Homo sapiens: one gene and its partners. The protein of the gene in region 4 purifies or fractionates together with the protein of the main gene of each other region. This does not show direct contact. Each region holds a gene or a part of one and is shown on either strand. Other genes may lie near its edges.

Region 1 (5,181 bases), on a different chromosome or scaffold from region 4:
CAGGTATGGTACTGAAACTTGGTCATATCTTACCTCAAAGAACCTATTTCTGTACTTGTGAAATATAGCTTTATTAATAATTTTAAAGTGCTTAGAGTTCCGATATTTTTTTATCAAAGGGTATTATATAAGTAAAAGTAATTGTGTCTTATTTCCTGTGATAGATAAATGTTTTCTTTCTCTTTTGAAATCAAAGATAAAATGCACATATGCACTCAAATGCAAACATATTTGAAGAGTTTGAAATGTAAACATTCTTATTTTGCAATTGCTTACATGAGAAGTATATAGTCTCCTGTCCTCTTCCATCATGCTCCCTGACAGCAGCCATCATTTCAGTCCCTTGAGAATAGAAAGGAAAGCAGACAAACCACCTGAAAACTCTGGTGAAAGTTCTCATGATGTGGCCTCCAGGGAACAGCCTCTTGTTTTACTTGAGGCTCATTTCCGCTGGGCCATCCTCCTTGCATGTCACTCCATGCCTACTGTGGGTAGGAAACAGGTACTTGGATTGACTGATTGCTGCTTTGAGATTCCTTGACATATTTTTTCATCAACATGAAGGCAAAAGGACATGAATACTCAGTCAAAACATGCAGAGCTGTACTTACGTGAACACTTTTAAAATGCGATACTGAATCTTATATAATTTTAGGATAATTTATGAAAAAGCTTTTCTTTCTTGGAATTTCTTTTGTTTACTCACAAGTGATCCAAGCAAAAGATGAAGCTGTTAAACCATGAGTCAGTATAGTATTTTTTTAACTTAACACCTGAGAATAAAGCTGAAAGGATTGTTTAAAAAGTGTTTCAAATCATACTTTCAAAATCCATCTGTGTCTGGAGACCCTTAAATAAGCACATGCTTCATGGTCATTATCCCAGATAACTGACAATTTGTTTTTCTACAAAATCTCTGGATATTATGAAACATCACACACGAGCTTGCTTTTAGGATAGATTATTAATAATGTATTTTTCAGACACAATTGTATGTGAGAGTTTCTGCAAGTATAAACAATAAGATAACATTACAGCAGCAGGCAACACTCACTAAAATATCAATTTTGAATTGTCTGCTCTCTCTTTGAGAAGGAGAAAGAGCTAACTGAGTATCTTTTTCCCTCATGATGTACTTACTGGTCTCCAATATCCTATGCCATACAAACAGTGGACATGGTCCTTGCTTAGCTCCTATGAAATACGGAAACTGCCTACCTGCTTATTTTTGAGGGAAAAAAAACTTTTCTAGAAAGATTTTTAGACAAATGATTTATTGGCCTTTGAAGCAAGGACAAGTGCTATAACAACTCATTAAGGGACAGTTGAGCTCTAGCAATCAGGTTTTGAGTTATCAAGATTATTAGGAAGAAAAGTTGACACAGTTTCTCAGGAAAAAGACAAGGAAGCAAAGCATTGAAATCTGTTTCTGACTTGGAGTGTCTGCCAGATCCTAGTTTACAAGGCTGGCTTTCTGCCTAATCCCTAGCATTTTCATCAGATTTGAAGACTGAATAAAGTGAACTATTGGGCATTAGAGCATATTTCTAGAGCACCGAGACCTCTTCTATAAATAGCATAACATCACTCTTCTATTTTAACCAATGTTCAGAATCCGAGGCCACAAGTTTTTATATTTAAATATGTATAAACCAGATCATTCTATGCCTGAAAGTACTAGGGTTTTATCTGTCTGTGTACAGGAAATTCTTCTGTTAAAAGCTTAGTTAACAATATGACATTACAAATAATGTACCTATTTTTAGTGGTTTTATTAAATTATAATGTTAAATTTAAAAAGCCAAGCATTCACCTTGAGCTACATCTGAGCCTGATAATTCAAAAAGTGACATTTCAGTACAAAGCCAACATACCCTTAAATTGACAAAACTGCCCTGCTTTTAAATTGTTTTGTAAAAAAGTACTTGATATGCAAGTTTCCAACGACTTGTTTTTTTTCTGGAGAATCTTAGATACTTTCTGAACCACTCTTAGACAACACAGAATGAATATTAATGACAGGAGAGAGCTGACTCCTTCAGGCAAAAGTGGATGAGACAAGTTCTTTTATGCCTTTGAGAATCTGTTTCATCATTTATATATTGAACACATAGCAACAGTTTTATTTCTCTTGATTTCTGGACTTTTAGACCTGTATGCATCGAAGCATATTACACCTCACAGCCTGAATAGGAAAGATTTGTTCAGTTCTCTGGTTATAAGAATGATATAGGAATTCCTTTGTGTTCTCTTCCTTTCTGTACATTTTATTCCTTTCTCATGTCTTCTCTTCCTACTCTGCCCTTCTTCCTTCTTTTCTTCATTCTTTTGTCTTTCCTTTCTTTTTTTGTATCTTAATTAAATATTTTCCTATAGAATCACTAAATGAAGGTTTAGTACTTTTGACCCATAGTAATCTTCACCAGCTGAATTAATTTGTGTCAACAACTAAGAAATGTAATTCTTAGTTTGTATACATTTTAGGTTAGCTTCACAAAATATATGTATAGATAAATAAAGGAGCAGCCTTTTAATTTGTTTATGTAATTGGCACACTTAAATGGAATGTGTCATCATATGAATGTTTTTAAAATTTTGCATGTAAAGGGCTTGCGGATAATTTTTAAACCGTAACTTTTTGCAGAGAGACAGAATAATGTTTTAGAGTCCAAAAAACTGGCATGTACTATTTGGCATGTTTTTCTTTATTTTCTATTTTGCCATTGCAATGGTAACAAGTTACTGTGTTCATGACAGGCGTGCAGCACTGTATTTTTATTTGTTTATTTATTTTATTGCCTTGTTTGATGTTGATAATGAAGAGGTTCTCTCTCTTAAAGATGCAATGAAGGAGACTCAAGTGTTGTTACTTGCCTGCAATTACACATTTAGAAAGCCTCTTATATTTTTTGTCTGTTGGAACTTACTGCCTCAGCACTTAATAAAGCAGGAAAAAGCATGTTTTGTAATTCTCTTACTATGTAAGAACTAGTTTGCTTTTGCTTATCTAACATCATTATTGAGTATAAGATACATAGTCTTTATTTATCCCACTGAAAAAATAAGAAAGATTTGATATACCATTATTTCTTCTGTGACTCTAATTGCAAAATAAATTGAGTTTGTGTTTTAAAATTATTCAAGGGACATTTTTGTAATCTACAAGAAAAGTCACTAAGCTTGAGTCACTAGGCTAAGTTGGCCTTTAGTCATTGCTATATCACTGTGATGTTAGATAAGTCACCTTATTTGTTTTCTTATTTGTAAACTCCATAGTTCCAAGCCACCAAGTAGGGTGCAATGAGAAGTGATTGTAATCATAAGTGTTGTAGCTTTATCACTAACTCTCCAAACTTATCTCTTATTATTCTCCTCATTGATATTCATACACACCTTCTTGCTGTTCCTTCACATAACATTAGTGGAAGTTGTTGAATCTATTGATACTTTTTATCTTCTATTCCAAGGTAGAATGGTTAAACATTCTGCTCTAAGTGAACATATCCAAACCACAATTATTATTCAATTCAAATATGAAGTCTATCAGTTGGCAATTCTTTGTGTTAAGAAACACATTTGCGAGCAATAGCTAATAGCCATACCATTGCAATGTGGAATAATATAAGTGTGTTTGTAGCTAATCTGATTTAAGAAAACAGGAATTTTAGTTGGGAAGGGCCTATAGAAAGAATACAAAATTATATGAAACATAGGATAGGTATTAAGGGAGATATTTGAATGAATACAGGTATTCATATTGTTTCTTACAATATGTCAGGCACTTTTCTATGTACTTTCCATGCTTCATCCCATTTAATATTCTCAATAACTCCTTGGGATTTGTGCTAATTTGTTTATAATTTTTAAGTGAGAAAGTAGTGGAAAAAGAATAACTGAGCAACTTCCCAGGGTCACATTATGTAGTAAGATGTAGAATTAAACCCAAGCTACCTATTTACAGAGCCAATACTCAATCATAGGTAGTCACACAATCAATAAACTCATAAATGTCAGAAGAAGAGAATAGATGGTGGCAAAGAGGTAGAGGTACCCAAAAGAGATTAAATAGTGATAGGCAAATTGATCCACTTTATAGGTTAGGTCAATATGAGCATGATGGCAATAGGATAAAAGTATGAAACTTAGAGAGCTGGATTCAGATAGCCAACTCTGGAATGGTGAACTTCAATAAGATAGTTCCCCAGGAATGAAAATGCAATAATGTTTGCAAATTGTCTGGTGCCCTGTTACTATATGGTAGATTTGACCACCTTTGCTCCTCTTTCTCTTTTTTTATTTTCAGAAATTCTTTCACTTGTAAAAATGCCACCTGACTCAAAATGCTTAAGCAAGAAAAGGGATTTTGGTGCTCATGTGACCATAAAGTTCATGAATATTCTGGCTTCAGTCATAGGTGGAAATGGGAGCTCACACCATGTGGTCAGAACCAAGCCTATTCTCCTTCCTACCACTGTACCACTAGTACTCAATAATTTAACGACTGGTATGATTATACCAGTGTGAAAAGTCTACCTATAAGAGGATATTGGCTGAGTTGATTGTTATTTAATTCTAGTTATGTCCTTGCCTTACTCTGTTTGGCTTCCTCACTTTTTAATGCAGAAGGGTAGATAGTCTTTATTCATCTCATTGCAAAGATAAGAAGAAAGTCCTTTACAAGACTTGAAGAAATTAAGCTTAGTAGAACCAAGAACAGCAAATTGCAGAGCCACTTGCGTGTAAATGAGAATTTCAAACTTTTATTAGTTTTGTAAGGAAGGAGGGGTTATTTCAAGGAGTTTATAAAGTTTTAACCTACATATGCTACAGATTAAACGTTATCAATTTGTACAAATATATTATACATTTTTATCTTTGTTGTACTCTGAATTGAAGAGGAAATATTTGGGAATAATATATTTCTTCGGTAAGTATGATGATGTTCCTATTATATGCCAGGCACCATTTGGATGCTGGGGATACAGAAATAAAAATAGTAGACAGGTTTCCTGCATGTAGGAGCTTACATTCTAAGGAAGAAGAGAGACCATTAAAAACAACAACAAAACATTGCTATGGTACTTATATAATAAATACTATAAAATTGTAAAATAGGCTAATAAATAAAACAGAGCAATAGTGGGGAATGTGATCAACCAAAAGGAAAAGGAGCCAGCCCTG
Region 2 (5,181 bases), on a different chromosome or scaffold from region 4:
TATATACATACCTTCTATCAATAACTCACTGGACATCTTGAGTTTGATGCTTTTACTCCTCTAATTTAATCTGTCTCTCCAAGCTTCCATTTCATCCTATTATCTATCAGTTTTTTTTTTCTATATACTCAACCATGCCAGACCAGTGTGCCTTTTGTTATATAATGTGCAGATTATGCAAATATCTTTCTAAAAGGGAATCTTATATTCTCCTTGAAAGTGGTCATATCCTACAGTTTTTTGTTTGTTTGTTTTCCTATCTCTGGTATCCTCACTTTGCAACCTTTCTGCTGTAGAGTAGTATACAAGGCCAGGTTTTTCATCTAGGCTCTTCCTACAGATTGCTTACATTTGGAGAATGACTTCTTTCCCTATTGGCTAGGTGAGTTGGCAAGTTGATTTAAGGACTTGCGCCTGTAAGATGAGTAAAATAACAGCAACTTCTCACAGATATTTTTGAAGATTAAGTGAACTAGTATATAGGAAACTCTTAGTAAGAATTAAATGTTAGCCATCTAATCTCTAAATTCAGGTTTTATCATATCTTACACTTGCTGAAAAACATACCGACGACTATTGTGTATTGTATCATCAATTAAGTATTTTTCTGCCTGATGTTCTAAGCTTGCTTCCTAACTCTAACCCCATGTTAACTTCTAATCTTTTCTGCTGTTAATCCAGTATTATGGGCACATTCTCTACCTTCTTCCTTCCATCTTCACTGCATTTGGTAGCATTTTCACAGGGTTTTTCATACTATCAATCAGTCCTTTAATATGGTTACTGCAGTTATTTGAGACTTTCAAAATTCTACACTTCTTTAAAATCTGAATCAAGTCCTACCTTTTTCCTGAAGTTTCTTGAATACTCTGAGAGATTTCTCTTTCAAAGTATTACAGCATTTACTTTTCCAATTCAATTCTAGAGTCTCATAGGTCTCGGTATTTTTTATTATAATATATCTTCCCCTGGTTATAGCTTACAATAGATGAGATTATATTATTCTCTTAGTCATTATACAAAAGCACATTTTGATGTCAGAAAACTTACTTTCTCATGGTTAACTATTATAAGCATAAAGATAAATATTAAAGAATTAAAATAAATGCTAGCACCTCACATGCTATTCAAAAGAATCTACATGTACCAGTTTTGTTGCATGACAAAGAAAAAAATTAAATCATCAATACTCAGTTATTGACCAATAATTATGTGTCAGCAAAAAAAAGTAGTCTAAATCGCTGTGCATTGGAAGATTATTGTGATTTTTGAATTTGGAAAACTTTTCCAAATGATGTTGTAGTCTGTACGTTAACACAGACACTGATCTTGTACTTTCTCTGCATAAGATCTGGGTGAGAACATAGTTTATGAGTAGGAAGGATGTCAGATCAATGGCCACTCCATCCCACTATTAGATAAGCCCCACACCTCACTATTACCTGTCTGTTTCCATTGGCCTGTATTAAAAATACTATCAAGAAAACTAAGAATTCCAAGGCAGGGGATACTAATTTACATATGTTTTTTCAGTTAAATGCATGAGGCTGAAGTTCTGCAATATGTTAGCAATAAACACAATACAGTCAGCCCTCTGTATTCATGGGTTCCACATCTGCAGATTCAACCAACTGTGGATCAAAAATATTAAAAATACTAACAATATAGCAATAAAAATTTAATAAAAATTCAATTCCTCCTGTTCTCCATCGTGCACTATGCTTACTAACCCTTTGTCTAGGTCATTGCCATCCTAACCAGGTAGAGAGTTGAAGGCAGAACTCGTTTTATTTGGCCAGTATTATGTTTAATAAAATGAACATTTATGCCTTCAGGCAGTAAACACACAGTCTAGTTCACAGCAGTTCCTGTTCTTCATTTTATCTTGTTCTTGGCACCTTAAATTTTGTTTAACCCCTGTATCCAAACTCCTGCAGCCATTTGAATTTGCCATCCCTGATTTAGAACTTCAGCAGAACTGCTTCCCTTTATTCTCTTCTTCCCCCTATCAATCAACGTTTCTGATGAGTGAGTGTGTAGCTAATTCGAATAAGCTAGGGTGGGAGATGAATTCTAGGTTGTTGTGCAAAGCCCATCTATTCAATCATTCTGTTTTTTCACACTACAGTCAATTTGTTTTATACTAAGACATGTTCTGCATATTTCTGAAAGTATTTTCTAAGATTCCAATATGAAGCTTCACAAATAGAAAATATTTATGAGATGAGATTATTACACATATATAAAAATAGTGGATTACTAAACAGTGTATTACCAAACAAGTTTACCTACAATTTAATAAGGATTTATGTTTCAATATTAAACACATTACACACACACACACACACACACACAGTTTTACTTTTCTCAGTATTAACTAAAGTGCAACTTCTTTTATAAATGTGCTTTTACAAAATATACTCACTTATTTCCTACTCAAAAGCATGCCAACATGCTCTTTGGACATAACTTAAAACAATTATTTCTACTAACATGCATACCTGTAGACAGCTTTTAATAGAATTTGGTATTTATATTTAAGACAGCAATGGAGTCATGTTAAATATACATTATACTTATAACATTTCACATAAAGTCGCATCATATAGAGTTGCAGTGGTTCATAATTACCTTTATGTCAAAGATACAAAATTAGCAGTTACCATGAAATATAAAGCAGGTAAATACAAAGCAAAAAAAGAGAAGTTAGAATCAATCAAAATGAGAAGGCATATTCTTTGGACTACTTGTACCTTTTTAATTGTCTTCTGGATAAGCAGGTCTCCAACTGGCATTAGAATACCTCCAAACACAGCCAGGACAGCACCAATGACAGCCCCAGCGATGAGCCCACAGTTCCGGTCACAGCCCATTTTTCTTGTTCAGGAGGTGAATTAGTGTTAAGCACCTGTTTCTTGCAAACTCCTGGATATGATTAAAGTGGTTTCTACAAGCTCTGGTTCTATCATTAGAAAGAGATCATAAAACAGAAGCTTAAATATCAGTACAAAAAGATCAAAGTACAAAGAAAACACCCACTGAAACGTATCATTTTGCCCGTTCTAAATAAACAAATGCTTTTCTTTTTGTTTCACCAAAGTGGCTTCCTCGGTCCGTCTCCCTTTTCTTGCTTCTAATGCCTACCAGTGGCAGAACTAATAATGTCATATCTGAATTTCTTCATATTCCTCCTTTTTAATTTTCTTTCTACACATGATTAACATATTGAAATCTTATCTAAGGAGAACTCTCACCCTCATCTCTCTTCCCTTGTCTCAGCAACTTAGTTGCATCCTCACTATCTGGTTTCTCCACCCAACACAACCTTCCACACCCCTTCTGGAGCTCTCCTGCGAACAGAATGTGGGTTGACTGATGTGTTTTCCATTAAATGATAAGCAAGTATGGTAACAGATGTTTTATTTACGATACCTTATTCACAAATCAACAGCAAGACATGAATTTTACAGGAAATGAACTGATGAGTCACAGAAAGAATCAATTCGTCTAATCATTGGAAAGCTATCTGTGAAAATAAGAAAAGCATGGGTAAATAGAAAAAAATTCTCAGAAATTTTATACTGGGACACTCTCTAATATCACCATACTTAAAATAACTGTTAAAAGAAAGTCTAATTTTCATGAATACTGAGTTCAGGCCTGAATGGCTTGTCCTAAAAACTGTTTAAAACATGGAATTTTTAAAATAAGAGTATCTTACTTTCAGTTTTATTGATGACTTTGGATAGACTACAGGTATAAAGAATTTGAAGCAAATATAAAATGTAGAGGATGTCTTGTTTCAACCATGGCATTGCTCTCTTACTGAAGAATTTTTTCCCTACACATTCAACTACAATATAGTTTGTCATTTGCAGTTGATTCATGCTAATTCTGTTAAAATTAGGTAGTTTGTGTTAGTATATATTTGTCAATCTAATGTTTGGTGTCTTCATAAAGTATGTGATTATTATTATTTTTTGAGACGGAGTCTTTCTCTGTCACCCAGGCTGGAGTGCAGTGGCACGATCTCGGCTCACTGCAACCTCTGCCTCCTGGGTTCAAGCAATTCTCCTGACTCAGCCTCCTGTGTAGCTGGGATTACAGGTGCACGCCACCATGCCTGGTTAATTTTTGTATTTTCAGTAGAGATGGGGTTTCACCATGTTGGTCAGGCTGGTCTCGAACTCCTGACCTCGTGATCCACCCACCTCAGCCTCCCAAAGTGCTGGGATGACAGGCGTGAGCCACCATGCCCAGCCATAGTATGTGATTATTATATAAAGATTGGGAGAGCCGGGCGTGGTGGCTCACACCTGTCATCCTAGCACTTTGGAAGGCTGAGGCGGGTGGATCACCTGAGGTTGGGAGTTTGAGACCAGCCCGACCAACACAGAGAAACCCCATCTCTACTAAACATACAAAGTTAGCCGGGCTTGGTGGCACATGCTTGTAATCCCAGCTACTCCGGAGGCTGAGGCAGGAGAATCGCTTGAACCCAGGAGGCGGAGGTTGCGGTGAGCCGAGATCATGCCATTGCACTCCAGCCTGGGCAACAAGAGTGAAACTCCATCTCAAAAAAAAAAAAAAAGATTGGAAGAAAGAATACAGTTTGTGAAATGAGTGGATCCTACTGTAATAATCAGAGTTAATTCTAACTAGTATTTGAAAACACATTTATTTGAACTTCTTTGTTGTTGCAATGACATTTTGTCAATAATGGGGTTGGCGTGTCATTTATAGTCAGAATGCGCTTTATAGTTTATAAACAATTATTCTCTACTTTGAAATGCTCATGGCCAAAGAAAACATATGTGCCAACGGAATGAAGGCTACAGTCAAAAAAGGGCACATAGAATATTGTTGTTAATGTTGTAAGTGTATTAATAATTGTGGTTTGTTATAATTTCAGGTTTTCCCTCCACAGCTGTCTTGCAACAGAGGTACCACTCTTATGATTTTATTAGTATTTACTTCCACTTTAGTAATCATATAGTTTTTCAAAAATATTACCTGTAGAGCTAAGAAAAGAATAAGAAAATGATATTTTCCCCCAAAATGTAGGAATAAATGTTACAAATATTTTTCTTGGCAATTTTATTATTTACATATGTTCCCTTAACCTTTGGGATTCCCCTTTGCCTATTCCCTTATACATAGGATACTTTCCAGTATAAACCA
Region 3 (3,500 bases), on a different chromosome or scaffold from region 4:
TTACCAAAAAAAATTAGCAGCCAGGCGCAGTGGCTCACACCTGTAATCCCAGCACTTTGGGAGGCTGAGGCGGGTGGATCATGAGGTCAGGAGTTTGAGACCAGCCTGGCCAATATGGTGAAACCCTGTCTCTACTAAAAATAAAAAATTAGCTGGGCGTGGTCGCGCGCGCCTGTAGTCCCAGCTGCTTGGGAGGCTGAAGCAGAAGAATTGCTTGAACCTGGGAGGCGGAGGTTGCAGTGAGCTGAGATTGCGCCACTGCGCTCCAAGCTGGGCGACAGAGCGAGACTCCATCTCAAAAAAAAAAAAAAATTAGCCGGGCGTGGTGGCATGCGCCTATGGTCCTAGCCACTAGGGAGGCTGAGGTAGGAGGATTGCTTGAGCTCAGGAGGTTGAGGCTGTAGTGAGCTATGATCATACCACTGTACTCCAGCCTGGGCAACAGAGCAAGACCCTGTCTCAAAAATAAAATAAAATAATGAGGAAAAATTATATGTGATCCATTACAGAATTGTCATATAGACAATAAGGGCTAAGAGGTAAGAGAAGAGGCCTGGCGTGGTGGCTCACACCTGTAATCTCAGCATTTTGGGAGGCTGAGGTGGGCAGATCACCTGAGGTCAGGAGTTTGAGACCAGCCTGGCCAACATGGTGAAACCTCATCTCTACTAAAAATACAAAAATTAGCCGGGTGTGGTGGTGGGCGCCTGTAATCCTAGCTACTCGTGATTACAGGAGGCTGGGGAAGGAGAATCACTTGGACCCGGAAGGCAGAGGTTGCAGTGAGCCGAGATCATGCCACTGCACTCCAGCCTGGGTGACAGAGCGAGACTCTGTCTCAAACAAAAAAAAAAAGAGGTAAGAGAAGAGAGAGCTTAGTCCCTGTTTTAGTGCCCAAAGAAGGCTATGTGGCAGGGCACCATAAAGGGACAGGAGGATTTGACTAGGTCTGATATACTCTAGGGAAGTAGTGACATATAACCATTCAATGAGTGGTATGTGCTCTTCTGTTTCCTCTATGTATGCATGATGCTTGGTGTGTTCACAATGGCAAATTAAAAAGAAATTGAGTTAAATGTGAATGTTAGAATCAGCTAGGTCCACTTTCTGCCAAGTGACTTCCAAACATGAGCATTATGTTTTAATGCCAAGAACCTACTAAATGTTTAAGCCTCAGTTTCCTCATCAGTAACATCAGAAATAACAGTACCCCATCTGCATGATTATTATGAGAGTGAAATAAATAAATTCATATTGAAAGGGCTAACCATTGTGCCTGGTATGTAGTAAAAACCAATAGTTTCCTCTTTTCATGTATGGAAAAGGAGGGGCTTGTATAGTAAAACCAAAGCTGAGGAGGAGGAGGATGATAGTAGTAATAAGGATTACTACTAACATTTATTGAGTCCATTTTTATGGTCCAGGCATTGTGCTAACTAATGCTTTACATATATTAACTCTTTAAATCTTAATAATAGCTTTGTGATATGTATGCTTTTATCATTTATATTTTACAGATGAAAAACTAAGGCACAGAGAGATTAAGTAGCTTGCTTGAAGTCATGTAGCCATTAGTGGCAAAGTTGGGATTTGAACTAGATAATCTGGGTTCATAGTCTGTCCCCTATAGATAGGGTGAGCTGGAAAAAAAAAAAAGTGGAAGTTTCTGAATGCCAAACTGAAGAGGTATAAAAATCTTGGAATATTAGGACCATTGTACTTCTGTTATCAGTATATATTACAAGTAATTTTGCCATAGGTGTATCACATTCTATAAAAGTGATTCTCAATAGAGCTCATGTAATGTCCATTTAAGTGGTAAAGGTTAATTTGGTTAATCTCTTTTTACTCCCTTAAGAGGAAGTGATTTCTTCTGTTGGTTGCAATAAGAGAATTTTTTAAATTAAAAGGTCCTAGAGTATACTCATTCTTTTAGGTTCATCACTTCAGAAGGTTCTATGAACCTTTCCTGCCTTTGTAGGATCAACTAGCCAATATGTTGCCTCCTGCCCCCACCAGTGGAATGGTGCCCACGTAACTGCTTATGAGTGAATCATTTTCCCTAATTGGTTTTGTCAAACCTGACATTTCAGCAATCCACAACTGTAAAACCAGATGGTATATTGGAAAGCACATCTTCTTTCTGGCAATAACTATTCTACTCCTCATTGTAGTGTCCTTATTGATATTTTGTGTCCATTTCTCTTGTTCCTCCAAATAATTTGAGCAATCTATTTTCTGGCCCATAGTTAGAGATTGAGACATTTCTTGATATATATGGAATTCTTTTGCTCTTGAATAGACTGATGTTTTTCCTATTCCTGACCTAAAATTTCATATCTGAAAACTGTACTGTACTTAGTCCTTGAAGGTAGAAATAGTTTTGTTCAGTTACACCTACTGTGCACTGGGGATAGTGAGATAAATGAGAAATGGTTCCAGCCCTTAAGGGAAAGACAGCCTTGTCGATGGTAAGTATTTGCAGAAAGCATAGATGCAATAATAGGAGTCTATACAAGTTGCAGAGGGACGCAAAGTGGAGTATGGTAAAATGTGGTAAAGGAGAGGCAAGAAAGGCTTCATAGAAGACATGATGCTTGAAGAGAGTCTTAAAAAATGAATAAGTATTTATCAGGTAAATGAGGTAAAGAAAGAACATCCCAGGCAAAGGTATGAAATTCAAAAGGAAGCTGTAAATAGTTTGGCGTATCTGGAGCAAATGATGAGACTGAAAAGAATGTCAGGAGCCAAGTCATGGAAGGCCTTTTATGCCATGCTAAAGAGTTTGGACTTCTTTAGTTCCATATGTTGATATTATCTGATGTGGAACTCTTAACCTGATTCCAGCCATGCAGAAATGCTGGATTAAAAGTCTCCAATACAGAGCTGAGCTTGAAAGCAAGAAAGGGAAATCCTTAGGTGCCAGGAAGAGAGAGGAAAGCAAAATCAGAGCTGTAAATGGGAGCTGAAGCTAAATAGTTCCAGGGAACATTGAATCCAGATATAATGCTTAGGGGCTGGGATTTTAAGGCCAGTATGGATGGGAGATAAGACCTCGGGCTAATGTGATGTGGGGAGCTAGAATTGATCTCCTATGTGAAGCTGGAAGCCGAAACAGGACTACCATATGTTTGTGAGAAATGAGCTAGAAAAATTCCATCCACTGGTCCAGGGAAGCAGATTGTTACCTTCTCAGGGTCTTAGATGGAAAAAGAGTGGACAATAATAATAAATTAGAACCACACTCTTATTACCATGCATGAATATGTGTACAGTCATCTCTCAGTATCTGTAGGGGATTGGTTCCAGGACCCCCACTACAGGTGCCAAAATCCACTAATGCTCATGTCTGTTATATGGAGTGGTGTGCTATTTGCCTATACTCTATATAGATCTTCTTGTATAGTCTAAATCATTTCTAGATTACTATACAGGTTGAGCATCCTAATCTGAAATCAGAATGTCACAAAATCCAACACTTTTGAGTGCCAACATGGTAC
Region 4 (5,181 bases):
CTGATGCACACTGAACAGTTGCATGTGGTAAATTTGCTCTAAATTGCCTAATCACAACAGTCTCAACTGTTCATTCTTTAAAGAAGTGTATCTCAAGGCATTAAGAAAAACAATTCTGAATCTTTCTGAAAAATTCCTGGCCAGTGCAGTAGCTCATGCCTGTAATCCCAGCACTTTGGGAGGCCGAGGTGGATCACCTGAGGTCAGGAGTTCAAGACCAGCCTGACTAACATGGAAAAACTCCATCTCTACTAAAAATACAAAATTAGCCGGGCATGGTGGTGCATGCCTGTAATCCCAGCTACTCTGGAGGCTGAGGCAGGAGAATGGCTTGAACCAGAGGCGGAGGTTGCGGAGAGCTGAGATCGTGCCATTGCACTCCAGCCTGGGCAACAAGAGCGAAACTCTGTTTCAAAAAATAAAAAAAAATCCTATAAGCATTCAGTTATTAATGAAGTGGTAAAGACAAGTACTCCCCCAAAAGAATAAAAACGTTCTCCAAGCTATACCAACATATGCATATTTACTTTAAATTTATTTCACTTCAAAGTGTTTAGATACAGGCCTGGAATGGTGGTTCATGCCTGTAATTCCAGCACTTTGGGAGGCTGGATCATTTGAGGTCAGGAGTTCTAGACCAGCCTGGCCAACATGGTGAAACCACGTCTCTACTAAAAATACAAAAATTAGCCGGGTATGGTGGCACACGCCTATAATCCCAGCTACTCGGGAGGCTGAGGCAAGAGAATCCTTTGAACCCAGGAGGTGGAGATTGCAGTGAGCCGAGATCACGCGACTGCAATCCAGCCTGGGCAACAGAGCGAAACTTCATCTTGGAAAAAAAAAAAAAAAATTAGCCAGGCGGTAGTGGCTCATGCCTATAATCCCAGCTACTCTGGAGGCTGAGGCAGGAGAATTGCTTGAGCCTGGGAGGCAGAGGTTGCGATGAGGCAAGATCACGCCACTGCACTCCAGTCTGGGCAACAGTGAGACCCTGCCTTAAAAAAAAAAAAAAAAAAAAAAAAAAAAAAAAAAAGTGTTTAGATCCAAAAGATTCCTAGGAGATCAACAGACCATGGAATGACAATCTATCATCAAGGCAGTATAATCTCATTGTAGCACTAGTGTCTGACAGAGAACACAATAGAATTGGCTATGTTATTCTCCCACTTGTTTAACAAATATTGCACTGACCTACCACACTTGGTACTGCTACCCACAGACAAGACGAGGAGTTGTCATCTTTGCCCTCAAGTTGCTTCCAGTTGAGAAGACAAACACGTACCTGCACACACAGTTAACTATAATACAAGGCAGTTATGTACAAAGACCATGGACTGGTTCCAACAGGGAATTAGGAAGAAGTGGGCACATAACCCTGGAGAGTTCAGAAGTGACTCAATGAAAGAAGTATCATTTGAGATGCTTGGAGCCACTGAAGCTCAAAGCACAGGAATAACTCTAATCAAAGCAGTGATGTAAGGAAATTAAGCTGGCGATGTTCAGGATAGAACAGGGATTTAGGAGGGGGGGACAGACAAGAGGCAGGTAGACCAGTTAAGAACTATTTAAAAAGAGTCTGCTGACAGACCTCCCTGTCTTTATCTCTTGCCTCGCCAACCCTTAACCCAAAGAGCCACTAGTTATCTTCCTAAAACAGCTTGACTGACGACATTCCCCTCCCTCAGAAACCCTCATTGGCTCAATTGTATTGTCCAGGAAATACAATTTATATTCCTTCTACCATTAACACTAGATTGTCTATGTCTGGGTTTGACATTTTGTCTACAAAAGATGTGACTGGATCCTCTCCACTATAACACGAAAATTGTGCCGTTTTGATGATGGTCTGTTACTAGTTAGCTGAGGGTCCTCCCATACTTTATATCTCAACAACCTCTATGGGAATAGAGAAGGTACTTTCTTGTCTTACTATCTGTACAACATAGCATGAACTATACTCTAGAACAGATAAGACCTGGGTTCAAATCCCACCTCTGTTATTCATTAGCTATAAGATTGTGAACATATTTCATAATCCCTTTGAATTTGTTTTCTTGTCTATAAAATGGAGATGATAATTCTGATGTCATATGGTTGTTGTGGGTTTTAAATGAGACAATCATGTAAGTTCCTTGGTATAGGGCCAGGCCCAGAGAAAGCATTCAATAGCTACGAACTCTTATCATGAGGCCAAAATACATTTTTAAAAACATAAATAAGAAAAAAACCTCAGTGCTAAAACAGTTAATGTCATTGGGGAGCCAGAGAGACTCACTTCCAACTGCCTCAGATTAACGCCAATGTTGTTTCCCTTGTACACATAACAAAAAACTTCCTTTTTCATTCCTCAGTCTAGTCTCCAGTTAATCCTGAAATTGCATGCAACCCAACGTGAATCAAATAAAAAAGGAAAACAGTAATTATGCTGAATCAGACATTTTATATTTATATGTTCTAACCAGAGACTGAGCTGCATAAGCCAGAACTTTAACTAAATTCTTTTTTGAACATGTCCAGAAGATACCTCCTGTAAACTACTTGGGACAATTTCTACAGTGATAGGCCCTGTGGCTCAATTCGACCCTCCCCAAGTGAAACACAGAGCCAAATTGATGATTCCAACAAAACAGGAGATCACAGATTCATTGCAAAATCCAACACATTACTTACGGTGGGGAAGGCGGAATACAAATCTTAAAGACACATGCTGTGTGTCATATATAATCAACTCACTATTAGAAAGTATTGCTACCTCTCCAACACACATACACACGTACTTTTTTTCCACGTAGTCATAACAGCTTATAGGAGTCCTGGAATCCTTTGTGCATGTACATATGTATGTGTGTGTGAGCACATGATCATAGGTGCATTGCTCATGAACACAGAAGGGAACAAGAAATAAAAACTCCAAAACTGCAACTAGGGCACAAAGTTCTGAGTATCATTCAATGTCATTGTGAAGAGGACCTTTGGCAAGTTCATGAATGCTTCTAACCCACTGCCTCACTCTTAAAAACAATTTCAACATAGATGAGTAATAAAATGCCCATTGTTGCATACCCTTTACCTTTGTCTTTATGGAGGGAGGCATAATGAAAATGGTTAGATTTTTAAACTTATCTTCATTAGTATTTTCATTTTTACTAGTGAACTAGCTTTACCCAGTTAATATTCTATAGTATTAGAGTCCTAAATCCCTTCTCTCTTTGAAATGCCTGGGCACTCCCTTCTCGTCATCTGTATCGCTTGTATGGCACTTATCACCACTGTGTTGTATTCTAATTTTGTGTGTGCGTGGCTTATCTCCTTACTAATAGGAAAGGTCCTGGTGGCAGAAGCCCCTCCTGCCTTTCTTGCTGTCTCCACAATGCTGAGCAGAGGATACTGCACATAGTGGGCGCTCCAAAAGTACATGGCCATTGAAAGCTGAACAAAAACATAATCTTTGTGTTAAAGATCCCTTTTGATCATGGCACCTGGACTCAGCATTATTTGAAAAGTACAGGGGTCAAGCAGACAGGCAATGCAGGACCTCAGTTGGAAGCCCTGTCAGCATGATGTACTCCCTGACACCCTTGAGAGCACATCAGATGATCCTAACTATGATCTATAAAGACTGAGACTCCTCCAGAACATGGAGTATTCTTAAAGCCTGTTCAAACCTCTAGAAGGCAAGTGCAAGGCCATCTGGAATAAAACATTAAACTTGGGCTGAGCCTGGGGCTCAATGAGCTAGGTACCCAGACTTTGTGATACTTCACCTGGAAAATGATCCTGGGTGTTTTGCACTGAAAAAAGCACATTCCCCATCCCAGGCAAAGTGCCTGGCAATTAATCCATCCAGACCTAGGCTGAATACAAGTCACTATATTGACTATCCCCCTTAAAAAATGACCAAAATTATCTGAGTGTAGCTCAGAGAAGACAAGGCTAATGTATGCATCTGGAGAGGCCAGGGTGATGGTAAAGATTACGCCTGTTTCTATACTGGCCGTCTAAAGGTATTTACTTGGGTCTGTCTGTGTTGTGACAGTGTCCTAGACTCAAATGAATGCCTCTAACACTCCACATTTTTGAGCCATTCAGTCATGCATTTTTGTTATTGTTGAAAGTGGTGCGAAATTGCACTGCATGAGCTAAAGTCCTTGGTGGTCTTCCAAGGATTCCAGCTAAAAAGGCACTTCCTTTGTTCCTCAGGAGAATGCAGTCCAGTAGGTCATTCAAAAGGGGAAATAAAAGCAGCAGCCCAGGGAGGGAGATGAAGGACAAGACAAAAAGAATAAAATGTTTTGGGTGTGAGCACATTAGCTTCCATTTCCTGCTGCTGGTCACTAATAACTCCCCTATCTTTGGCATGGGGGAATGTCCAGATAGACATATACGCAAAATATCCCTCAGGTGATTTCTGGGGATGATGACAATCAAAGGGAACACCTAGCACAGAGTCTCTGAGCACCCTTCAAGCTTCCTTTTTCCTGAGATGCTGGCTGGGGAAGATGCCCTGCCACAGCGAAAGACTGCACAGAGCAAAGTTGGGGAAACTGGGGAGGGCAGTTTCACAACCCCACTCGCTGAATGCCTGCAGTCAATATCAAAGGCACATATTGTTTGCATGAGCAGAAGATGAAACCTTGTCACATTCCCATTAAGTGCAGAGCTGCATCTACCCCTTCAAAATGTGGGAATGACAACTGTAACCTTCACGCCAATCATCTCCGCTGTGCCCAGGCCTAAACTGTGCAGGGCACAAAGACCCCAGGTTTGACCTGCAGAGTCCCCAAGCTTCAGCGGCTGGTGGTTCACTTCATTTTTTTTCTGGCGGGGCAGGAGGAAGGGAAAGAAAGAGGGCTTTTCAGGGCTCTACAACCAATAAAATCGTGCCGCTTTGAGGACATACTTGAGCTCCCCAAAAGACAGGCAGCTGAAGGGCAAACAGTGTCTAATCAGTAGTGAGCATGTTATTTGGTAACTGCCAAGGTGCAGTGGGCGCCTGGGCTGCTCCAACAATTTCTTCGCTTCTATTTCTAGACAGACGCCAGTTACACTCCAAAAGTGCCCAGCAACTTCCCTCAATTACCTTTGTAATTAATATGTAATTGATGACTGCACTTAATCTCCAAGGTTATTAATAGCCCTTCCAAAAAATGACCCCCAAATCTTCCTAAGCCTTTGGAA

The links.
Region 1: the proteins of GPC4 (region 4) and SYT1 purify together in Homo sapiens (co-immunoprecipitation; one large-scale study listed by IntAct). This does not show direct contact.
Region 2: the proteins of GPC4 (region 4) and CD36 purify together in Homo sapiens (affinity purification with western blotting; one study listed by BioGRID). This does not show direct contact.
Region 3: the proteins of GPC4 (region 4) and TCEANC2 purify together in Homo sapiens (co-immunoprecipitation; one large-scale study listed by IntAct). This does not show direct contact.

What each region holds. Positions count from the first base shown.
Region 1 is NC_000012.12:78,870,305-78,875,485, forward strand, and holds part of SYT1 (synaptotagmin-1), read left to right. Parts: intron 1-5,181. UniProt on the Homo sapiens protein: Calcium sensor that participates in triggering neurotransmitter release at the synapse. May have a regulatory role in the membrane interactions during trafficking of synaptic vesicles at the active zone of the synapse.
Region 2 is NC_000007.14:80,644,433-80,649,613, reverse strand, and holds part of CD36 (platelet glycoprotein 4), read right to left. Parts: intron 3,527-5,181; 5' UTR 3,433-3,526; intron 3,366-3,432; exon of another isoform or gene 3,255-3,365; intron 3,169-3,254; exon of another isoform or gene 2,963-3,168; 5' UTR 2,874-2,962; coding exon 2,754-2,873; intron 1-2,753.
Region 3 is NC_000001.11:54,060,108-54,063,607, forward strand, and holds part of TCEANC2 (transcription elongation factor A N-terminal and central domain-containing protein 2), read left to right. Parts: intron 1-3,500.
Region 4 is NC_000023.11:133,408,320-133,413,500, forward strand, and holds part of GPC4 (glypican-4 precursor), read right to left. Parts: intron 1-5,181. UniProt on the Homo sapiens protein: Cell surface proteoglycan that bears heparan sulfate. May be involved in the development of kidney tubules and of the central nervous system.